2 linked regions of the Homo sapiens genome follow. Each later gene encodes a partner of the first gene's protein in a complex. Links are inferred from orthologs where the notes say so. Each region holds a gene or a part of one and is shown in the gene's direction. Other genes may lie near its edges.

Region 1 (3,749 bases):
TCCTTTGCTTACCTCTTTGGGGAGCATCTCTCTCAGTGTCAGAGAGCCAGTCTCTAGTGGAACAGAAGGGAAAGCTCTTTGCCTAGAAATCTGAGAGTCAAATCAGATCTCCCTCCTCCCCACTCTCTGGGTTCAAAGGAGCCACATCTCTGCCTGTCACAGCCTCACCCAGAGACTGCATTGTATGTACACATATCTACATGTGTCTGTGTGTATATCTGTCTTCTGTGTGTACATCTGTTTCCCCAGCCTTCTTTCTAGAAGGAGTGCCTTAACAATCGACATCTCTAGATAGGCTGGGCAGCTCTGCAAGGTTTGCCAGAGCCACTGCAGCCACGAAGGGGCCAACAGAGGCTGGGAGCTGGAAACTGTCCAGTGCTGGCCTGGGGAGCCAGCTGGACACAGCACCCATGAGGCAGGTCAAGAAGAACTTTGGGCTCAACTAGAGCTGGATTCCAACCCCAGATGTGTTTATTTACTGAGGGCTGTGTGTCAGACCCTGGGCTAGGTTCTGTGGATATAGCAGGGACAGGCCCCTTGTAGATGGGCCCTGTCCCTGTCCTCCTGGGGCTGACCTTGCAGCGGAGGAAACACACTCCCAACAGTTACCTTATCAAAATTACAAGGATAATTACAGGCTGTGAACAGAGATGTGAAGGAGAGGCACCCGGGGCTGCAAGAACCCAAAACAGGGACAACTGACCATGTGCAGGGGCCCAGGATATGACGTTTCAGAAGACAGGTGCAAGATGAGTAGGACTTTAAGGTGAAGATAAGAGGGTTGAGAGACACTAAGAAAAACCATTCCTGGCAGAAGGTTTTGTACATGCAGAAGCTTTGTGGCTGGAGGGAACACTGTGAATTTGAAGGAACCGAAGTGACCGGAGCAGAGACAAAGGAGAAAGGTGCAGATGCGGAGAAGGCGGAACATGTGGTCTTATCCCAAAAGCAAGGGAAAGGAATGGGGAGGACATCGAGAACAGGGAAAGAAGGTGATGGAGCTGAAATTGCTGGCCTGTTCACTGCACAATCTTAGACAAGATCTGTCTTTACCTTTATCAGTGTGTGGGTTTCCGTTTATTCATAATGGGGATGAAAATGATTCAGCTGGCAAGATAAACCCTGCGAGAACACCCACCACGTTAGCCTGAGCTCCTCCAGGGCAAGCATCCTTTTTTTTTTTCCCTCTGTCCTCGGTACCACCAAGAGAAAGCTGGAAACAAGGTGGCCTCAGCGTGATTTCCTCCAGTTAAATCTGACCAGCTCTATCTTGGCTCCTTCCTGGCTTCCTTTACCCTCCCTGCCAACCCTTAATTTTGTTTTGGTTCCCAGAGCGAGCAGGGACTGGCTTCCCGTTGCCATAACAACTGCCATTAAAGGAGCCAGCCATGTGATGCCAGTTGATAATGGAAGCAAAGTGACTAACTGCCTTGTTTTCCTGCCTCTGGGCTGGGCCTAGAAAGCCTCTTAATTGGAGGGGAGAATGCAGGGGCTGGTGGGAGGCAGATGAGACCCCAGGAAGGAGACAGGGAGATGAGGCAGGTCCTGGAGTGGAAGCTACATTTAGCTCTGCGACCGGAGCTGGTGGAAGGGCTGTAATTGGGGAGCCATCATCATAGCTGCTGAACAGAGCCTGTTTGGAGAACTGAGCCTCCCAGCCTCTGGGTTAGGGGTGATGAGATGGGAGAGGCAGGCAGGACTTGCTAAGAAGGTTGGAGAAAAACGAGAGAAGCAATTGACGTTACCATGGGGACCCTGCAGTTTTACTGTGACCCAGTGGTTCTTAATGAAGGGGAGCAGTTTTGTCTCCCGTCCCTAGGTTTGGTTGCCAGATAACATCCAGGTCGCCCAGTTAAATTTGACTTTCAGATAAACAGTGAGTAAGTTTTTAGTATGAGTATGTGTTGCTAAATCTGGCAACCCTACTCCAGGGGACATTTGGCAATGTCTGGAAACATTTTTGGTTGTCACAGTTGGGGGTGCTATCAGCATCTAGTGGGAAGAGGCCAGGGATGCTGCTCACATTCCTGCAATACACAAGACACCCCCTCAGCCCACCACCACTAGGAGCACAAAGAAGTGGCCAGCCCAGAATAACTCTTGTTAAGGCAGGAAAATCTGCTCCCCGCTCACCCTACCCATCCTGCACCTGCTGCGCCCTTCACTTCTCTAGGCTAATTTGATACGAATGTACTGTTCTTGAACAACTCATTCTTACTGCTTTTAGATTGTCTTGAATGCATATTTGGAGTCTAAAGCCGGGGTGGGGGTGGGCAGGGGCAGGGAACGAAGTCTTGGCTCCCTAGCCATGTCATTTAGGGGAAACTTCCCCAGAATGCCTCAGTTTCTCACCTGTAAAATGGACTTAGGCCATAGAAGAGAGATTGGACTATGTAATAACATTAGCAATTCCTGGCCGGGCACTGTGGCTCATGCCTGTAATCCCAGCCCTTTGGGAGGCCAAGGTGGGATGATCACTTCAGGCTTGGAGTTTGGGACCAGCCTGGGCAACATAGCAAGACCCCCATCTCTACAGAAAACAAAATAAAAATAGCCAGGCATTGTGGTGCATGCCTGTAGTCACAGCTATTTGAGAGGCTGAGGCAGGAGGATCCCTTGAGCCCAGGAAGTTGAGGCTGCAGTGAGCTGTGATCGCATCACTGCACTTCAGCCAAGGCAACAGAGCGAGACCCTGTCTCAAAAAAAAAAAAAAAAATTATGACCAGGCATGGTGGCTCATGCCTGTAACAGCACTTTGGGAGGCCAAGCTGAGTGGATCACTTGAGGTCAGGAGTTGAAGACCAGCCTGGCCCAACATGGTGAAACCTCATCTCTACAAAAAATACAAAAATTAGCCGGGTGTGGTAGCATGCGCCTGTAATCTCAGCTACTCGGGATGCTGAGGCAGGAGAATCGCTTGAACCCGGGAGGTGGAGGTGGCAGGGAACTGAGATGGCGTCACTGCACTTCAGCCTGGGTGACAAAGCAAGACTCCGTCTCAAAAAAAGAAAAAAAAAAAGAAAAGAAAAATTAGGCATTCCTAATTTCCTACGTGTTTGCTGGGGGCTTCTGGCTTCCTCTGTGCTGGGCATTGTGCCATGAACTTTCTGAGCATTATCCCCTTCACTCCTCATAAAAGCCCTAAGGGAGAGAACCATCATCTCTTTCCATGATAGATGAGGAACTGGAGGCAGAGAGATGTTATGCAGCTCGCTTTAAGGTCCCACTGTCAGTCCGTGGAGAAGTCAGGATTCAAACCTCATGTTGCCAAGATCTAGGGGGATGGCCTCATGACCTTGGCTTACAGTGGGCAGTGGTGGGCAGCTATGAGCTTCAGAAAAGTCCCTGGAAACACAGCTTGGCTTCAGGCATGTGCAGGGGAAGGAAATGGGGCAGGAAAGGTCCATTAGTCCCAGCTTGTGCAGGGCTGTATGTGCCAGGCTGTGCCATTTGAACTTCCCATAGTGGATAATGGGGAGCTATAGAAGATTTATGAGCAAGGGAGGGTTTTGCTTAGGGCTGTACTTCAGGAAGTTTCAGCTAATAGCAGGGACCAGGATAGACAGTTTCTGCCAACTCTTAGAAGAAAACTTTCTCCCTCCCTCTGTTATTTTCTTTCTCCCCCACTTCCGTTCTTCCTTCCTTCCTCCCACAAATATTTATCAAGCATCTACTATGTGCCAGGCCCTGTTCTACAAGCTGCAAACTGAGAAGTGAGTAAAGCAATGTCTTTGCTCATATGCCCTCAT
Region 2 (3,749 bases), on another chromosome or scaffold:
GGGTTTCACCATGTTGGCCAGGCTAGTCTCAAACTCCTGACCTCATTATCCACCGGCCTCGGCCTCCCAAAGTGCTGGGATTACAGGCGTGAGCCACCACGCCCAGCCACTTGTAGCTTTTCATCAGAGATGCCAGAAGTGATTTCTTTCAGTCTCCAGCTTGAGATGGGGTATTAACTCCTAGTACTTATAGTAATAAGTAGGTGTTATTTAAGTAAAAGAATCATTTATGCATAGCAACTTTGGCCTCTTTCTCTCCCGTGAGTGATGCATTGGTGTTTACAGAATATAAAGATGAAAATCTTCGTTAGATGAAGGGAGTCAAACTAGGTTAGTTCTTTAATGTTTTCATCAAGGAACAAGTTTATGGAGCAAGAGAGATAGCAACTGTCTATCCAACTTGCATCAGCTTACCAACCACACACATCCAATAACAAAAATCCCCCAAACTTGCCCTTCAGAGAAAAATCTTTTAACCCACTTTACTCTTGCACTGACATAGAAATGTGGTTAAGAAGTGAATGGTGGAAGAGACCAGAATATACTAACTTTCTTAAATGTCAGTTGGCTAGTATCCAACTGATAGTAATTTTAGAGAAAGTAACTTTCTAAGCTTATTCTTTCTTAAGGTACTATAAGCTACACTCAAATATGTTTGAATGCCTTCTTACATTTTGGAACAGCCTGAGAGTCACTTATGGAACCTTCTTAGAACATTTTTATGAAAGCTGTTGGGTTTGTCAAGGTTTATTTTAACTCAAAATACAATAATTTTATGAGATCACTTGTTAATAGCTAGTTGGCATTAGCAGTTGCACAGATAAACTCCTATTTGATCACTCCTTGACTATGGTTAGGATATACGATTTTCAGGTGGCATTTCTTTAATTACCCTGTGGATTGCTTGTTGCAATTTGACCCAATGTACATGACTTTTTTTTCTATTGGAAAATTAACTCTAGTGTTCATATATAATGTTTTACTGTGTACTTTTAATATGTGTTTTAAAACAAGATAGTGTATATTTCTTCTTCCCCCCAATTTAACAGATTTGTATTTTATAAACGTTTATACATATTTCCTTGGGGAAATGACCTGCAGATAAGAAATAGATTTCTGTTTATGAGAAAACAATTATTTAAGCTTATGTGTCGTTTTCAGAAGCATTCTAAAATTGCCTTTTTAATTTGTGAGGAACTTTCTCAAACATGACCTTTCTAGTGCTGAATGAAAAGTCATTACCTGAAAATGACTCCCCAAAAAGCTGGAGATTATTTAACTTGTTGTGAGCCCCAGCATCATAAAAGTGAGATCTTTGTCTTGGAAAATAAACAGACTAAATCTTTTTTAAAAAGCTTTTATTTTAGGTTTAGGGGTACATGTGTAGGTTTGTCATGTAGGTAAACTGCCTGTTGCAAGGGCTTGGTGTACGGATTATTTAGTTACCCAGGTAATAAGCATAGTACTTGATACCTAGTTTTTTTCTGCTCCTTTTCCTCCTCACACCCTCAACCCTCAAGTGGGCCCTGGTGTCTCTTGTTCCTCTCTATGTGACCATGAGTTCTCATCATTTAGCTTCTACTTATGAGTGAGAACACGCAGTATTTGGTTTTCTGATAAACAAACTAAATCACCGTACAAAACGTATTGAGATGTCCCTATGAGTCCCTCCCGCCTGTAGGGTTCTGTATCATAGGATCCATGCACTCAACTTCATACATAAAGCAAGGACTTAAGGAGAGCTTCTCCAATACCACCTTTTGCACCATCGCTTTCTATTCAGAGATGACAGAGGCAGTATTTTAACAAGATTAAAGGAAAGTTTTAATAGCTTCATTTAAAAAGTTCTTGTTTTTCCACAGTATCACAACTGTTTTCATTTTTCATCCACCTGTTTGTTCTTTGTCCGTTTGACTAGTCGTTTTTATCATTGTAATCACGACATCCTGTGACTGTGCTCATGAGGTCTGTTTATTTCCACTTTACGTAAACTTTTCAAAATGACAGTTATTTCGTACTCGCTGTCGCCCGAACGCAGACGGGAGGACACTTCAGGAGCAATCGACCCGAAGGAAAAGCACGATCCAGGCCCCGCCTGCCTCGGCTCCACCTTCCCCGCGCCCGTCCCCCAGGGTCTCGGCCGCGGGACCCCGCCTTCCAGGCCCCGCCCCGCTTTTTCCCTGGCCCCGCCCCGGCCCGTCGCCATGTTGTTCCCTCCGCGCTGGACGGGAGCAGCTGGAGCGGGAGCCTGGCTGCGCTACCGCGGCTGCCTCCTGCTGTGCAGGTCCCCGACCCTCTCTCTGTCCTCATTGCGCCCAGACGGGCCGGCCCAGAGCTCCCGGGTCGTCTTTCGTGTGGCCGCGAGGTGAGCGGGACTCGGGACTCCTTCGGGACCGGGCGGAGTGCGCGGGTGTCGGGGTCTGAGGGGGCGGCTCGGGCCTCGGGCAGCTGGGGCGGGGTGCGGTGCGCGCGGGGCTAGCGCGGGTCACAAGGCCGCCCCGGGAGAGAGGACGGCTGGTTGTCTCCCTGCCTCCTCTCTGACGCAGGAGGAAAGACGGTCCCCACACCCTTGGGGAGAGGGACTCACAGAAACACACACAAACACTGGAGAAAGGGAGATACAAAAGCCCGGACACCCGTGCACATACACACGGAGAAATACACCCGGTCACCTGGGAACACACGTACACGCCAGCCTTTCCCCCAACCACTCCGGGACACACATCCACAGACCCCAAACCAAATCCTACACCCGAATGATTAATGTAGGGAAAACAAAGGCGCTCCCATGACTTGATTTTGGCGACCTCTGAAGTTCCACCTAGCAGAACGTGTTTGCTCGATGTCTTACGACCACTCGGGTGAGGAATTCGGAAAGTAAAGCCAATCTTAGAGGCTGCAGGCGTTTTGGGGGCATTATCTGATTCAGACGCTGGCTAACGTTTCACAATCGCGTTCCCTTTTTTCTTCCAACTTGGTAAGTAAAAAGGCAAAATGAGAAATTTAAGTGCTGAACTTAATAAATAGTTGGTGGACGTATTGCTTTTTTTTTTTTTTGGTAAGGGATGACACATCTCGTGACTACAGTTCTTTTGAGGAATAACTTTTCTGCTAGTTTCCAAATCGGCACGTGACCACAATCTTTTCATAGGATTTTAGCGTCCTGATAAAAATCAATGGGCAGAATTTGATTGCTTCTTTAAAAATGTGTTTGTCCTTCGGTCTCTGGCACCATTGTAATGGAAAATCCCTACATTGCCTGTACTCTCAGAAGCTGTCCAGTGTAGCAAAACTAGAGATAAAGAAACCTGGAACGATTCAGTTAGGAACTTTTAAGAAGCCAGCCTTTAGTTTTTCCTTTAGAAGATTATGAAGTTATCATGATTGCTTCTCTAGAACTTTAGTAGTTATTTGGATTCCTAAATCTAAGACAATGCTGTGGCAGTCTGGTGCTTTTAGTATTTTTGTGTCTGCTGTGGTAAATTCCTCGTTTATACTACAAAGTTTCTCTTCTGGAGACTTTTGGGATCTGGGCATATTTTTTCGTTTATTATTTGGAATGTTAGAGTAGATAGGCAAACACTAAGTAGAACATCATTGGCTTTGACTCCAAGCCGGGTTTTAGAGATAAGGGAAATAATACCTTAGTGCTATCACTTCTTTTCCAACCTCTCTCATCTCTTTTTGTTTCTATCTCAACCATTTCTTCTGTCTGGACTACAGTACTCTGGAGGCCTAAAGAGAAGATC

Evidence for each region. The genes of interacting proteins can lie anywhere in the genome.
Region 2: the proteins of SGSM1 (region 1) and RAB9A are in contact, whole or in part, in a crystal structure (PDB 4QXA), measured with the Mus musculus proteins. The link is inferred for Homo sapiens from one-to-one orthologs. Residues at the interface, in NP_766306.2 of Mus musculus: Leu256, Leu257, Tyr258, Gly259, Lys260, Asn261, Asn262, Tyr277, Asn294, Met297, Asn298, Gln361; in NP_062747.1 of Mus musculus: Phe37, Thr39, Ile40, Gly41, Val42, Glu43, Phe44, Leu45, Trp61, Arg68, Phe69, Leu72, Phe76.

The regions. Positions count from the first base shown.
Region 1 is NC_000022.11:24,809,170-24,812,918, forward strand, and holds part of SGSM1 (small G protein signaling modulator 1), read left to right. Parts: intron 1-3,749. UniProt on the Homo sapiens protein: Interacts with numerous Rab family members, functioning as Rab effector for some, and as GTPase activator for others. Promotes GTP hydrolysis by RAB34 and RAB36.
Region 2 is NC_000023.11:13,686,924-13,690,672, forward strand, and holds the start of RAB9A (ras-related protein Rab-9A), read left to right. Parts: upstream 1-2,204; 5' UTR 2,205-2,365; intron 2,366-2,483; exon of another isoform or gene 2,484-2,977; intron 2,978-3,749. UniProt on the Homo sapiens protein: The small GTPases Rab are key regulators of intracellular membrane trafficking, from the formation of transport vesicles to their fusion with membranes.